Linked DNA regions of Homo sapiens: region 2 is linked to region 1. The links come from fine-mapping of genetic effects on gene expression. A gene starts in region 1. The other region holds a variant in brackets. All regions are shown on one strand. Distances are between the middles of the regions.

The links.
Region 2: its variant is fine-mapped to the expression of TNNC2 in whole blood (INTERVAL, PIP 0.92).

Annotation. Positions count from the first base shown.
Region 1 is chr20:45,822,990-45,831,317 of GRCh38, reverse strand. It overlaps TNNC2 (troponin C2, fast skeletal type), which reads left to right and starts at 4,006. Exons shown (of 6, transcript NM_003279.3): 1 at 4,006-4,072; 2 at 6,484-6,535; 3 at 6,680-6,823; 4 at 6,912-7,026; 5 at 7,191-7,327; 6 at 7,939-8,104. The coding sequence starts at 4,070. The coding sequence ends at 7,970.
Region 2 is chr20:45,763,161-45,771,488 of GRCh38, reverse strand. LOC124904915 (a long non-coding RNA gene) reads right to left here. Exons shown (of 2, transcript XR_007067610.1): 2 at 3,909-6,331. Among named protein-coding and RNA genes, the nearest start is that of WFDC3, 25 kb to the left of the region's middle. RefSeq lists enhancers at 1-422, 4,892-5,823, 5,824-6,756, 7,690-8,328. The variant T/C (reference allele first, on the strand shown) is at 4,878.

The DNA.
Region 1 (8,328 bases):
GACATGAGCCACCGTGCCCGGCCTCTTCTTTCAGAGACAGAGTCTCACTCTGTTGTGAGGCTGGAGTGCAGGGGTGCGATCATAGCTCACTGCAGCCTCAAACTCCTGGGCTCAAGTGATTCTCCCACCTCAGCCTCCCAAGTATCTGGGACTACAGATATGTGCCCACCATGCCTGGCTAGTATTTTATTTTTTGTAAAGGTGGGGTTGCATGTTGCCCAGGCTGATCTTGAACTCTTGGCCTGAAGAGATCCTCCTACCTCTGCCTCCCAATGTGCTGGGATTACAAGTATGAGCTACCACCCACCATTCTTTGTTTTATTTTAATTTTTTAATTGGAGACAGCGTCTCGCCATGTTGCCCAGGCTGGTATTGAACTCCTGGGCTCAAGAGATCCACCTGCCTCAGCTTCCCAATGTGCTAGGATTAAAAGTGTGAGCCACTGCCCCCATTCTTAAATTCTGTATGGATATCTCCCTACAGCCTCCCTGAGAAATGGTCATCTAGCTCCTGTTTGGGTATACTCAGTGATACGGAGCTCATTACCTCCTGAGGCCACCTGTTCCCATTATTGTTCAACTATGACTATTAGGAAGTTCCCCCTTATATTGAACTAAATACCATCCAGTTCAGTTATTCTTATGTAGAATATAATATCTGTTGAACACCTGCTACATAGCAAGTGCTGAGCACTGGGAAATGTGATGATCTGTAGAACATAGAATGGGTTGTGAGCATAAGGTATGCTCAGTGCTATGATTGAGGAAACTACTAGAGACCACCTTGGACTCCCTGGTCTGGACACAGTGGGGGAAGGATCCCCGAGGAAGTGATGTTAGAGCTTAGAAAGATGATAGGGAAGTAGACAGATGAAGAGAGGAAAGATGGGAGTTTCTGGCAGAAAAAAACAGCATGTGCAAAGGCTTGAAGGTTCATAGAAGGTGGTGTTTAGAGTAGTCTTTTTTTTTTTTTTTTTTTTTTTGAGATGCAGTCTCCTTTTGTCGCCCAGGCTGGAGAGCAGTGGCATGATCTTGGCTCAGTGCAACCTTCGCCTGCCAGGTTCAAGTGATTCTTCTGCCTCAGCTTCCCAAGTAGCTGGGACTACAGGCGCCCACCACCACACCCAGCAGCAATTTTTTGTATTTTTAGTAGAGACAGGGTTTCACCATGCTGGCCAGGATGGTCTCGAACTCCTGACCTCGTGATCTGCCAGCCTGCACCTCCCAAAATGCTGGGATTACAGGCATGAGCCACCGTGCCCAGCCTAGAGCAGTATTTTAAAGTCTGATCAGAGCAGACAGCAACATGATGTGGAGGGAAGGAGTGAGATTAGAAGGGCCAATGGGACCTTGCTTGGCTACATTAAGCAATTTGGGCCTTACCTAATCCCTTGAATAAACAAAAGAACAAAGGCTGGGCTCAGGGGCTCATGCCTGTAATCCTAGCACTTTAGGAGGCTGAGGCAGGCGGATCACTTGAGGTCAGGAGTTTGAGACCAGCCTGGCCAACATGATGAAACTTTTTTTTTTTTTGAGACGGGGTCTTGCTCTGTTGCCCAGGCTGGAGTGCAGTGGTGTGATCTCGGCTCACTGCAAGCTCTGCCTCCCAGGTTCACACCATTCTCCTGCCTCAGCCTCAGCCTCCCAAGTAGCTGGGACTACAGGCGCCCACCACCATGCCCGGCTAATTTTTTTGTATTTTTAGTAGAGATGGGGTTTCACTGTGTTAGCCAGGATGGTCTCGATCTCCTGACCTCGTGATCCGCCCATCTCAGCCTCCCAAAGTGGTGGGATTACAGGCCTGAGCCACCGTGCCCGGTCGATGAAACCTTGTCTCTACAAAAAGTAAAAAATTTGCCGGGTGTGGTAGCTCACACCTGTAATCCCAGTGCTTTGGGAGGCTGAGGTGGGCGGATCACCTGAGGTTGGGAGTTTGAGACCAGCTTGACCAACATGGAGAAACCCTGTCTCTACTAAAAATACAAAATTAGCCGGGCATGGTGGCTCATGCCTGTAATTCCGGCTACTCGGGAGGCTGAGGCAGGAGAATTGCTTGAACCCAAGAGGCGGAGGTTGTGGTGAGCCGAGATTGCACCATTGTACTCCAGCCTGGGCAACAAGAGCAAAACTCTGTCTCAAAAAAAAAAAAAAAAAAAAACCAAAAACAAAAATTAGCTGGGCGTAGTGGTATGTGCCTGTAATCCTAGCTACTCAGAAGGCTGAGGCATGAGAATCACTTGAACCTAGGAGGCGGAGGGTGCAGTGAGCCGAGATTGTGCCACTGCATTCCAGCCTGGGTGACAGAGTGAGAGTCTGTCTCAAAAACAAAACCCCAAAAAACCAAAAAACAATAAAAACTAAATTGGAATCCCATGGGTCTCCCTCACCCTTTGGCACCCTGCCTGCCTGGGGGAGGCCTTATTTAGCTTGGCCCAGCCCTGCTGAGCTTTCCTTGGGAATGTCTATATATAGGGGAAGGGGGCAGCCCAGTTGCCACTGTCCATCTGCATTCCTTGGTGTCCAGCCCCCCTTTCCTGGCCCCAGAGCCTGCTATCGGTTGTCTTGGTGCTCTTTCTGTCCACGTAGCCACTGTCTACAAGCCTTGCCTACTCCCCAGTGCCCAGCCTGCACCTTGTGGATTCTCAGGTTGGGCTCCCTCTGGACTTGGTCTGCCCACCCCTTTACTCCCCAGATGACCAGATTTCTTCACTGAGCTCTAGGAAGGGGCCAGCTGTCCTTTTACCACTTAAAGAACCTTCCCCTGCCTACTCCTTACTTCAAAAAAAGTGAATCCAAACACCCTTTCCCTGGAGAAGGTAACTTTCAGAGAAGGATCTTTGCTTTCAATGATTATTTCTCCTCCAAATGCACATCCTCCTCTCCTCCATCCCTCCATACATTTTTCCATCTGGACAGGTGCCCCAAGGACTGTCTGTCCCAACTTCCCTCCAGTCAGGATTAATAATAAGAATCATCAACATGGGTGGGCATGGTGCCTCATGACTGTAATTCTAGCACTTTGGGAAACCAAGGTGGAAGGATCCCCTGAGCCTAGGAGTTCGAGACCAGCCTGGGCAACATGGTGAAACCCCATCTCTATAAAAATACAAAAAAAAAAAAAGCCAGGGGTGGTGGTGCACCTCTAGTCCCAGCTACTCGGGAGGCTGAAGTGGGAGGATCACTTGAGCCCAGGAGATAGAGGCTGCAGTGAGCTATAATAGCACCACTGCACATCAGCCTTGGTGACAGAGTGAGTATAGACCTTTATAATTTACAAAGCTCTGCAGTCAAGTGGGGATAATCGTTGCTACCTCATAGGAGGAGCACTAGATGAGATCATGTTAAAATGCTTAGCACAGTGTGTGGCACGTCATGGGGTTCAGTAAACAGTGGCCTACCTGTCACTTTCTCCTCCTATCCCCTGCCCCTTACCATGGTTCAAAGACGGGACATTCCTCTTGCCAAGCACCAACGCTGTGTACCCAGCACAAGCTAGGTGACTTATACCCGGGTTCCCATTTACCATGGTCTCTCTGTGAGGGAGACCCCACAGACAGGTCCAATCCCACAGATGAAGAAATGGCTCAGAGAGGCACTGCTACCGGCCCAAGGTCACACAACTCGCAGAGGCTGGCCTTGGATCTTGGGTTTTGGACTTCAAGGCTTGTACTCTCCCCATTTTACCATGCTGCCTCACCCTTTACTACTCTGATCATCCTTACCATCTTGGAGCCAGTGTGCTTCCTCGGTCGGGGGGACTCCAAGGCAGTGGAACAGGGCAGGCCTTCCTCACAAGAATCTAGGACGTCAAGGCCTGCCACCTGCTTGGAGGCTTAAATTTCTCTGCAAGGGCCCTTGGCTAAATTAGGTAATGGGTTCAGACTGTGGGAGGGGTGGGACTCGCTGACCCCAGGATCTGATTGGGCAGGGTCTCCAGTGCTGGGGAGCAGGGAGGTGGGAGGGGAGGGTGCCCCTACAAATCCCGGGGGCTAGAGCAGGCCAGGTCATCTTTGGGTGGTGGAGTGCAAAGGAGGCGACCTGCAACAGAGGAGTCCCGGTCACCAGCAACCATGGTAAGGACAAGAGGGGACTTTGTGCCTTTACTCACGGGAGCACTCTGGACCCCTTTCAGGCCAGGCCTGGGTGCTCTGTGGGGCAGTAACTTGGATGTTTGAGGTTGGAGCATGGAGGTTCCTGGAACCCAGGTGTCTTGGAGGAAGGCCTTTGACTTTTCTTGAAAGGGGAGGGCTGGGATATTCCAGAGATTGATCCTTAAGGCTTGCTGACTGCCTACTCACTTCTGGAAACTTCCAGCAGTGTCATTCATAGACCTGTGAAGAGCTCTTAGCTTGTTTCCTTCACACAGTGGGGACTCTGAGGGGTCAGAGTGAGTCACCCAGCAGGCCAGTGGCAGGGGTGAGCCAGAAGCCTGGCCAAACCCTCCTATCATCATGGAGAGAAGAAAGCCTCCTCCAGAAGACGGGAGGCCGGCAGGGCGTGGGGCCTGCTCAGATGCAGGGCTCTGGGAGCCCTGAGGATGATGGGAAGGGGCAGAAGATGACAGACCAGAGTTAGAGAGACTCCGCTCTCCTAGAGAGGGCTTCTGATTTGGAGCTGTTGTTTTGGTCTGAGATCCCCCTCCCCACTTCACTTCAAGGAGTAACTAGATCCCAGAGGCCAGCTGCTGTTGCCCATGCCTGACTAAAAATAGCCTGCCCTCCTGGCATAGGGAAAGAGGAGGAGAGGAAGGAGGGGGAGAAGGAGGAGCACTGGTGGCCAGCTGGCTGAAGAGCTCCTTGGAAGCCTCACCCTGTCCTCACTGCCAGCCTCAATCCAAAGCCTCTGACCCAGATGGCCTGGCTTGGATATGACGTGGAAACCCCTGCAGAAATCTCACTTTCATGTCAAGGCCTCCATCACATTCGGCCCCCCATGAGGGGCCTTTTCTCCAATGACTGAATCCTAAGAAGGAAGCTGACAGCCTCCGACTCTGCCAGTTCTCTGAGGGGCGGGATGATGTGTCTTTTATCTCTTCTTTGTGGTTCCAGTGCCTGATCTGTGGCCTGACATGCAGCAAGTACTCAATAACTTTGTGTTGCATTATTATTTATTTGAGAACAAACATTTTATTGAGCAACTATTAAAGTACCGGGCACCATTAGGAGCTGCAGAAAACTGGAAAATAGTGCTGGAATGGTGCTAGCCCTTTACAAAGCCCTTTCACACCCCTGATATCTCATCCCTGAAAAGCTACAGAGAAAAGATGAAGGCACGCTAATTGACGTGCCTAAGGTCACTGGGGGGTGGGGGGGGTTCCCGACTTGGCCTTCAATTGACAAGTGAGAAGGCCTTGGGCTTAACTTGTTGTCTCCTCTCTTTTGCTCAAAACTGGGGTCACAGGCTGCGCGCGGTGGCTCACGCCTGTAATCCCATCACTTTGGGAAGCTGAGGCAGGCAGATCGCCTAAGGTAGGGGGTTCGAGACCAGCCTGACCAACATGGAGAAACCTCATCTCTACTAAAAATACAAAATTAGCCGGGCGTTGTGGTGCATGCCTGTAATCCCAGCTACTCGGGAGGCTGAGGGAGAAGAATCGCTTGAACCCCGGAGGTGGGGGTTGCGGTTGTGGCGAGCTGAGATCGTGCCATTACACTGCAGCCTAGGCAACAAGAGCAAAACTCCGTCTCAAAACAAAACAAAACAAACAAACAAAAAAAACTGGGGTCAGGCCGGGCATGGTGGCTCACGCCTGTAATCCCAGCACTTTGGGAAGCCGAGGTGGGCGGATCACCTGATGTGAGGAGTTCAAGACCAGCCTGGCCAACATGGTAAAACCTCGTCTCTACTAAAAATACAAAAATTAGCTGGGCGTGTTGGCGCATGCCTGTAATCCCAGCTACTCGAGAGGCTGAGGGAGGAGAATCGCTTGAACCCAGGAGGTGGAGGTTGCAGTGAGCCGAGATCACGCCATTGCACTCCAGCCTGGGCGACAGGGCGAGACTGTCACAAAAACAAAAAGCAAAAACAAAAACTGGGGTCAGAAGCTGGGCACAGTGGCTCAAGCCTGTAATCCTAGCACTTTGGGAGGCCGAGGTGGCAGGATCACTTGAACCCAGGAGTTCAAAACCAGCCTGGGTAATATAGTGGGACCCCATCTCTACAAAAAATTTTAAAAATTAGGCGTGGTGTATGCTATAGTCCCAGCTACTCAGGAGGCTGAAGTGGGACGATTGCTTGAGCCCAGGAGGTTGAGGCTGCAGTGAGCTATGATCACACTACTGCACTCCAGCATGTGTGACAGAACGAGACAAAACAAAACTGTGATTGGGTGCTGTGCGGGCACACAATTATGTGACAAGTTTGAAGTTGTTCTTCTGGAGAACCAAGGGCGCTGACAGAGTGGGGGTTGGGAAGAATGGCTTTGAGGTGAGGAACTGCTCTGGGGCTGCCTCTTCAGCTCAGACTTTCTCTGTGTCTCCTGCAGACGGACCAGCAGGCTGAGGCCAGGTCCTACCTCAGCGAAGAGATGATCGCTGGTGAGTGAGGCGCGGCAGGCTGGGGGCTGGGTGGATGTATGCTGGGGACATGTTGGCCTCTAGGCAGGGTGGGGGTTGGGGGGGGGTAGGTGTGAGGCTGACAGTCCAGCAGGCCTCACCTCTGCCCTCTGCCCTCCCTCGCAGAGTTCAAGGCTGCCTTTGACATGTTTGATGCTGATGGTGGTGGGGACATCAGCGTCAAGGAGTTGGGCACGGTGATGAGGATGCTGGGCCAGACACCCACCAAGGAGGAGCTGGACGCCATCATCGAGGAGGTGGATGAGGACGGTGAGCGGGTGTCCCTCGGAGGCAGGGGATGGTGGGGAGAGGCGGCAGCGGCTGGGCTCAGGCTCAGTCTGCCACCTGCTGCCCGCAGGCAGCGGCACCATCGACTTCGAGGAGTTCTTGGTCATGATGGTGCGCCAGATGAAAGAGGACGCGAAAGGGAAGAGCGAGGAGGAGCTGGCCGAGTGCTTCCGCATCTTCGACAGGTGCGCTGGGGGCCCGGGAGCCGAGGGAGGGGCTTAGCAGTCAGAACCCGGCCGGCAGCGCTGGAAGCTTCCCCGTGTTGGGAGTGCGGAAGCGGGGCGTCGAGTGTGGTGGCCAGGGCAGCTCGCCCCGGCCCTGAGCCCTGCCCTGTCCCTCGGACCTGAAGGAATGCAGACGGCTACATCGACCCGGAGGAGCTGGCTGAGATTTTCAGGGCCTCCGGGGAGCACGTGACGGACGAGGAGATCGAATCTCTGATGAAAGACGGCGACAAGAACAACGACGGCCGCATTGACTTCGACGGTGAGGGCCAACGGGAGCTTGGGAAGAGCGGGTGGGAGCCCCAGAGGACGGCGGGCACTGGTGCCTGGCTCCGGTGCAGTGTCCTTGGCCTTGTGGGCTGGGCTGGGCGTAACTTCACCAAGTTCCCCATAGTCTCCTGGGGGCAGGTATAGAAGCGCTCCACGACTCTGTGCAGTTTATCAATTAATGACCAGGCAGGGGGGCGTGGTGGCTCAGGACTGTAAAATCCTAGAACTTTGGGAGGATGAGGTGGGAGGATTGCTTGAGGCCAAGAGTTCGAGACCAGCCTGGGCAACATAGTGAGACCCTGTCTTTACAAAAAATAAAATAAAATAAAAAGGCAGGTGTGGTGGCACACCTGTGGTCCCAGTTGCTCCGGGGGCTGAGGTAAGAGGATCGCTTGAGCCTAGGAGATCAAGGCTGCAATGAGTTATGATTGTGCCACTGCACTCTAGCCTGGGTGACAGACCTTGGCGACCTTGGCAACAGAGTGAGACTCTGTCTCAACAAAAACAAAAACAAAAAGTCATCCCCTCTGTGTGGCTGGAGCCCTGGCCTGGCCTCTGCGTCCCCAGTGGGACCCCTGACCCTCTCCCTCTCCTTTCCCTCAGAGTTCCTGAAGATGATGGAGGGCGTGCAGTAAGGAGTGGACAGTCGCCTCTACCAAGATCGCGTGTCCCTAGGGTGTGGGAGACTCCGCCCTGCCGGGTCCCCACCAGGGAGGCGCGACCCCTTGTGGGTCTTTGTCTGGAAGGAATAAAAGCAAATGTTCCAAAACTCGTGGCCTGAATGAGGGGAGAGCCGAGGACAGCAGGTCGCAAGGGCTGTGGTCCAGGGCGCCATCCCGGCTGGCACCACCCGGAGCACCCTTGGGGATCCCCGGGAGAGGCTGTCTGAGCGGCGGGATGTGGAAGGGAGCTGGGCCCTGGAGCCCGAGGCGGCGGCTGCGAGTGCTCGATGGCGCTGACTCGCTCTGCAGGTTTGCAGCCGGCTCCTGACAG
Region 2 (8,328 bases), 60 kb after region 1:
TGTCTTTCCTTTCATATACAAGTTAAGCCTTCTCCTCAAGGGATTGTGTGGAGAAGCCCAGCTTCCCACAGATTCAGCAATATAAACAAAGAAGAGGCCATGTGACTGGAAAGAATTCTTTGCTGGGTGCTTCATGCTCTGCCCACCAGAGGGCAGCAGAGGTCTGTCATAGACCATTTCCAGGCAAGAGACTCAAAAGGGCAAAAGGGCATTCTAAAAGATAAAGTGAAAGCTTGCTATCAGCTGTCTAAGCTCCTGGATCCCGACTGAACTGCACTTAATAAATTAAGACCTAACATTATGCCCTCTGTTTTCATATGATGTGGCATGCTGCTTCATTTCTGGTAACATTGATATGGGGGACATTACCCACTATGTCGTATTAGTGTTTCTTGTACAAAGCCACAGGGTCAAATTCCCTGTGGAGCTCAAGATCAAGAAAAAGTTTCTCCCTCTGAGTTAGTGTGAGAATGGGCAGGGAAATAACTTACTGGGCATCGTCTGTCTTTCCAGACTCTGTGGTAGGGGCTTTCTAGAGCTGATGTTTCCATCTTCGCATTGGCTACCAGGGTGCCAAGAGCTCAGGTTTCGGAGTAAGGCCTGGGTCTGAATCTATAATCTTGTGCTGCTTATCAGCTTTGTGTGTATAATAACATTACCACACTGCCTACCTCATAGAATTGGTGTGAAGAGTCCATTATAAAGAAAGCACTGGCCAGGTGCAGTGGCTCACACCTGTAATCCCAGCACTTTGGGAGGCCGAGGTGGGTCGACCACCTGAGGCCAGGAGTTTGAGACCACCCTGGCCAACATGGTGAAACCTCGTCTCTACTAAAAATACAAAAATTAGCTGGGCATGGTGGTGGACGCCTGTAGTCCCAGCTACTCGGGAGGCTGAAGCAGGAGACTTGCTTGAACCCAGGATTTGGAGGCTGCAGTGAGCTGAGATCGTGCCACTGCACTCCAGCCTAGGCCACAGAGGGAGACTCCGTCTAAAAAAAAAAAGATTATAAAGAAAGCACTTAGCAGAGCCTGGCACAAAGCACACACTCAATAAATGTTAGCTGTTGTTATTCAGTTTCTCTGACAAAATCGATCCTTCTTGCCACCCTCTTTTATTACTTGTCCTCCCCCACCTTTTTTTTTTTTTTTTTTGAGACAGAGTCTGGCTCTGTCACCAGGCTGGAGTGCAGTGGTGCAATCTTGGCTCACTGCAACCTCCACCTTCCAGGTTCAAGCGATTCTCCTGCCTCAGCCTCCTGAGTAGGTGAGACTACAGGCGCCCACCACCACACCCAGCTAACTTTTGTAGTTTTAGTAGAAATGGGGTTTCACCATGTTGGCCAGGATGGTCTTGATCTCTTGATCTCATGATCTGCATGCCTTGGCCTCCCAAAGTGTTGGGATTACAGGTGTGAGCCACTGCGCCTGGATCCCCTACCTTTTTTCACTCTTGGTTTAAAGACTTTCATTTTCATGTAACTTGTTTTGTAGTATTTTATTTTCTGTTGTTGTTTTTTGTGACAGGGTCTCACTCTGTCTCCCAAGCTGGAGTGCAGTGGTGCAATCATGCTCACTGCAGCCTCGACCTCCCAGGTTCAAGTGATCCTCCTGCTTCAGCTCCCTAAGTAGCTGGGACTACAGATGCGCACCACCATGCCCAGCTAATTTTTGTATTTTTTGTAGAGACAGGGTTTCACCAAGTTGGCCAGGCTGGTCTCGAACTCCTGGCCTCAAATGATCCACCTGCCTTGGCCTCTCAAAGTGCTGGGGTTACAGGCGTGAGCCACTGCACCTGGCTGTTTTATAGTATTAAGTTCCTCCTTGAGTCTTGTTTGGAAGCAGGTGAGGGCAAAGGTAAATGAGAGGTAAGTTCCAGTAGAATACTTGGGCAGAAAGAAGCATCCAGAGCAGCACTCTTTCACAGAAACATAATGCAAGCCATGTATGTAATTTCAAGTTTTTTAGTAGCCACATTAAAAAACTAAACAGTGGTCTGGGCACAGTGGCTCATGCCTGTAATCTCAGCACTTTGGGAGACTGAGGTGGGAGGACTGCTTGAGCTCAGGAGTTCAAGACCAGCCTGAGCAACATAGCAAAATCTTGTCTCTACTTAAAAAAAAAAAAAAAAAGTCAGTCAGGTGTAGTGACATGTGCTTATAGTCCCAGCTACTTGGGAGGCTGAGGTGGGAGGATCACTGGAGCTCAGGAGATTGAGGCTGCAGGGGGCTATGATTGTGCCACTGCACTCTGGCCTGGGCAACAGAGCAAGACCCCGTCTCAAAAAAAAAAAAACCCTAAAAAGTTTGATGGTTTCTCAATAAGTTAAATGTGGAATTACCATATGACCCAGCAATTTCACTCTTAGGTATATACCCAAAAGAACTAAAAACAGGTATCCAATGGCCAAGTGTGATGGCTCACACCTGTAACCCCAGTACTTTGGGAAGCTGGGGTGGAAGGATCGCTTGAGAACATGAGTTTAACACCAGCCTGGGCAACATAGTGAGACCCTTGTCTCTACAGAAAAATTAAAAAAATAACCAGGGTGTGGTGGCATCATAACTGTAGTTCTAGCTACTCAAGAGGCTGAGGTGGGAGGATTAGTTGAGCCCAGGAATACAAGGCTGCAGTGAGCTAAGAAGGTGCCACTGCACTCCTGCCTAGGTGACAGACCCTATCTCTGAAAAAACAAAAAACAAAAAACAAAAAACCCAAACCAAAACCAAACAAACAAAACCCCTAGATGTTCAAGCAAAAACTTGTGAACAAATGTTCATAGAAATAGAAACAGGTGGACAATAGCCAACAGGTGGAAGCAACTCAAATATCTATCAACTGGTGAATGGAGAGACAAAATGTGGTATATCAATACAATGAAATATTAATTCAGCCATAAAAAGGAATGAAGTACCAATACATTCTATAACATGAATGGACCTTGAAAACATGCTAAGTGACAGAAGCCAGTCACAAAAGGCCATATAATTCCATTTATATGGAACATCTAGAATAGGCAAATTCGTAGAGACAGAAGTACATTAGTGGTTGCCAGGGGCTGGTTTTAGATCCTTGCACGGGCTGGTCAATGTGCAGATTCCCCAATCCCATTCCAGATATTTTGATTCAGTAGGTCAAAGATGGGTTGGGCCAAGGGAACTGCTTGTTTATGTGTTTATTCAGAGCAATATTTAAAAAAAGCCCTCAGGGAATTCTAATGTGTGGTCTGGTTTGGGGATCTCTGAATTAGAAGTTCATGAAAGTCCCATCAGCAGCTCTAAGAATCTGTAGCCCAATTCAGTAATTTTTTTTTTTTTTTTTGAGACAGAGACTTGTCGCCCAGGCTGGAGTGCAATGGTGTGCTCTTGGCTCATTGCAACCTCTGCTCCCTGGGTTCAAGCAATTCTCCAGCCTTGGCCTCACAAGTAGCTGGGATTACACCCACCATTAGCCACCACGCCCAGCTAATTTTTGTATTTTTAGTAGAGACAGGGTTTCACCATGTTGGCCAGGCTGGTCTCGAACGCCTGACCTTAAATGATCCACCAGCCTCGGCCTCCCAAAGTGCTGGGATTACAGGCGTGAGCCACTGTGCCTGGCCCAATTTAGTAATATTATTAATGATCATTCTTCCTTTACCTTTCTCTTGTTTTTCTTTTTCAGCTTTCCTGCAATTTCTGAGCTGTCTATATGCTTAGGATCACAAGTCTTTTTTGTTATTCTTTTTCTCCTCCTCACCTTCCTCCTTCTCCTTTTTATTTTTTAATTTGTTGTTGTTGTTTTTAAAATAGGATGCATAAACATTATTGCGATATTTAAACAGTACAGAAAAGTTCAAAGAAGTGTGAATGATGTAAAAGAATATTTATGTACACTGAAGAAGCAATGAAAAAAATTGCTATCTGAAAGATGATTGAAGAGGTTTTATTTTTTTCCTTTCAACTTGTATTTTACTTTAAAGGGATTCATATGCAGGTTTGTTACACGCACTAATTGTGTGTCTTGGGGATTTGGTGTACAGAAAATTTTGTCACCCAGGTAATCAGCATAATATCAGATAGGTAGTTTTTCAATCTTCACTCTCCTATTGCCCTCCACCCTAAGTAGGCCCCAGCGTTTATCATTCCCTGGTGATGACATTTGAAACCATCAAGATCGCTAATGCACCAAAAAAAAAAAAAAAAAAATTCAAAGAAGATCTCCCTACCCATAGGTGACCATTGTTAACATGCTTGTGAAGGTCCTTCCAGACTTGCTTTATGCATATATGCAAATGTCGATATAGGTAGAATCATCCTGTAATAGGCTTTTGTCATTCAACAATATAATAGATAGATATGATTTTTAATTGTTAAGGTATTCAATGTTTAAATATTTACTTATTTATTAATTTAACATGGCTCTGGAACTCTGTAGCTATTGCTTGCCCTGTTTTCCATGATCTTTGCCAAATGGCTTCAAACGCTTTTACATTCTTTCTTTTTTTTTTTCTGAGACAGGGTCTTACTCTGTCACCCAGGCTGGAGTGCAGTGGCTCAAACACGGCCCACTGCTGCCTCGACTTCCTGGGCTCAAGCAATCCTTCTACCTCAGCCTCCGAAGTAGCTGGGACCACAGGCATGCACCACCACACCTGGCTATTTTTTTCAGTTTTTGTAGAGATGGGGTCTCGCTATGTTTCCCAGGCTAAGGTTTTTACTTTCAATCTTAGTTTGGTTAAACCAGCAGGTGTATTCGATGACAAAGCCTCCATTCCTTCTGCAACACTTTTCGGCTTGCAGATAGATTGCTATTTCTTGATATATATATCAAGAAATATATATATGTATTCTTGGTTTTAATTTTTAGGTTCTTCCATTGTGCTGTACTTCATTGTA[T/C]AGGTTACATCTTTCCATGTTCAATACTTTCCCAGTTTTAATATTTTTTTCCTTTAAACATAGGCTTCTCATTCCAGTACTCTCTCACCTGAGGCCAGATAATATAAACAACTCAATCTCTTCTCTCTCGTTTTCCTCTTCCTTCTTAGCACTGAAACTCAAAACCAGAGCAAACCTGCCCCACCTGATGGCCCAGAACATCAGGGTCCCAAATAATGAACTGTTTAAATCACTTGATGCAAAATGAAACACTTATACTGAAATTAAAACAGTTTCTTTCTAGTTTTCTTGACTGCAAATTCTGGTTAAGTTCATTCAAGCTGAACTTGTCAGTTACTTGCTGATGCTTGAAGTGTGTGCTTAGCCTAGCAGCTGGGTAAGCCTGCCCTGCCCTGGAATGGAGCCCTCCTCTAATTGGATGGTTGGGCGTAAGGGTTCTTGGTTACCATCAACAGAAAGATACTGGCTGACTTGGGCAAATGACAGTGAACTGGAAGGAAATTGGGGCTCGTATGATTTATGCAAAGCTAGGGCTCCATGGTAGGGAATTGACAGCACTCTGGAGGGTCAAGAGGGAGGAAGCAGGTCATCTAGGCAGGAAGAGTTGGGTCACAGTGACGCTGCTGTGACAGCGATGTTCTATTTCTCTTTCCCCCTTCTCTCAAGATTGAGACTTCCTGAAAGAGGGAGAATATATGTAATTACTCATTCAGGGTTTCGCAGCCTTGGTCCTATTAATATTTTGGGCTGGATAATTATTTGCTGTGAGGGGCCATCCTGGGTACTATATGATGTTTAGCAGCAGCTCCGGCTGCTTTTCACTAGATGCCAGAATCTCTCCCTGTCATTTGTCACAAACAAATATGTTTCCAGATGTTGCCAAAATGTCCCCTGGGGGGCAAAATCACCCCTGGTTGAGAACCTAGAGAAAAGAATTGCTTCTCTGGCTTGTTTGGGTTAGCAGGCACCTGAAATTAACCCTCACAACAAGACATAGAACAGGGGAAGAGAATTCCTTGAAAGGAAATAGGCTGCTATTAGGAAGGAGAAAGGGATACTTAACATCTCACTATGAGTCTTTAGAGCCGTATAGATTCCTGAAGGGTATTTCACATTTTATGGGTAGCAGTCGTAGATGCAGAAGAAACCTTGATTCGCAGTAGCCAGGGGAGTAGATCTCCTTTCCTGATAGCTCCTGATTTTTCACAGACTACAACTTGTGAAATGAGAAAACAAATCACCAGAGTTGTTAAAATGCAAATTCCAATGCAGTAGGTTTCAGGTGGGTCTGAGATTCTGTATAAATAACAAGCTTCCAGGTGGTGCTGATGCTGCTTTTTTTTTTTTTTTTAAAGTATTCTTCTTTTCATGCGCGTCCATGTGAAGAGACCACCAAACAGGCTTTGTGTGAGCAACGTGGCTGTTTATTTCACCTGGGTGCAGGCGGGCTGAGTCTGAAAAGAGAGTCAGCGAAGGGAGATCAGGGTGGGGCCATTTTATAGGATTTGGGTAGATAAAGGAAAATTACAGTCAAAGGGGAGTTGTTCTCTGGAGGGCAGAGTGGGGGTCACAAGGTGCTCAGTAGGGGAGCTTTTTGAGACAGGATGAGCCAGGAAAAGGAATTTCACAAGACAATGTCATCAATTAAGGCAGGAACAGGCCATTTTCACTTCTTTCGTGGTGGAATGTCATCAGTTAAGGCAGGAACCGGCCATCTGGATGTGTATGTGAAGGTCACAGGGGGTATGATGGCTTAGCTTGGGCTCAGAGGCCTGACATTCCTGTCTTCTTATATTAATAAGAAAAATAAAATGAAATAGTGGTAAAGTGTTGGGACGGCGAAAAGTTTTGGGGGTGGTATGGAGAGAGAATGGGCGATGTTTCTCAGGGCTGCTTCGAGCAGGATTAGGGGCGGCGTGGGAACCTAGAGTAGGAGAGATTAAGCTGAAGGAAGATTTTGTGGTAAGGGGTGATATTGTGGGGTTGTTAGAAGAAACATTTGTCATTTAGAATTATTAGTGATGGCCTGGATACAGTTTTGTATGAATTAAAAAATAAACGGAATTAGAGAAGGACAAAAACAGGTATTAAAGGACTAAGAATTGGGAGGACCTAGGACATCTAATTGGGGATAGTACCAGGAGATATCAGCTGTGATGGTTTGGAGAAACAGTGTAAACTGGCAGTGTAAACAAGAGCAGGGCATGTATGAGTAGTTGAGAGCAGTGAATAGGAGTATGACTAGACAGAAGATAGTAGGGATGACAAGTGTTTTGGGGCACAGTCTGAGTTGGTCTGGTATCTGGAATGAGACTGGGGCCTAATAAAAAGGAGCGTCTATACAGGAGCTTAAATGGGCTGTACCTTGTAGCATTCCGAGGACAGGCCTGAATTCTGAGAAGCGAAAGTGGTAAAAGTATTGTCCAGTCCTTTTTAAGTTAGTGGCTGAGCTTGGTGAGGTGTGTTTTTAATAGACCATTAGTCTGTCACTGACTACTAAGAGCCTGAAAAACTGCTTGGCTGATTTGACTAATAAAGGCTCGTCTGTTATCAGACTGCATAGAGGTGGGAAAGCTAAACTGAGGAATTATGTCTGACAGAAGGGAAGAAATGACTGCGGTGGCCTTCTCAGACCCTGTAGGAAAGGCCTGTACCTATCCAGTGAAAGTGTCTACCTAGACTAAGAGGTATTTTAGTTATCTGACTCGGGGAATGTTGAGTAAAGCCAATTTGCCAGTCCTGGGTGGGGGCAAATCCTTGAGCTTGATGTGTAGGGAAGGGAGGGGGCCTGAATAATCCCTGAGGAGTAGTAGAATAGCAGATGGAACACTGAGAAGTTATTTCCTTGAGGATAGATTTCCACGATGGAAAGGAAATGAGAGGTACTAAGAGGTGGGCTAGTGGCTTGTACTATAGCATAGCCTGTCTTTGCTGGTGTGTGGCGATTAGGCCTGGTGGAACCGCCAGTCAATAAATCAAGCATGATTGGGTGAGGAACAGGAAAGAAGGAAATATGGGGAAATGGGGTGAATGTCAGGTGGATCAGAGAGATACAGTCATGGGGGTCATGTGTGGTATCAGGAATAATGTGGGAGGCCGGATTGGAGTCCGGGCCAGGAACAATGGTAATTGTGGGAGACTTAACAAAGAGTGAGTACAGCTGAAGGAGCCGGGGAGCAGAAAGTATATGTGTCAGGTGTGAGAAAGAAAATAATTCTGGAAGTTATGAGAGGTGTAGAGAGTGAGCTGAGCATAGTTTGTGATTTTTAGGGCCTCTAAAAGTATTAAAGCAGCGGCAGCCGCTGCACGCAGACATGAGGGCCAGGCTAAAACAGTAAGGTCAAGTTGTTTGCACAGAAAGGCTACAGGGTGCGGTCCTGGCTCTTGTGTAAGAATTCTGACTGCACTAACCATGCCTAGGAAGGAAAGGAGTTGTTTTGTAAGGGATTGA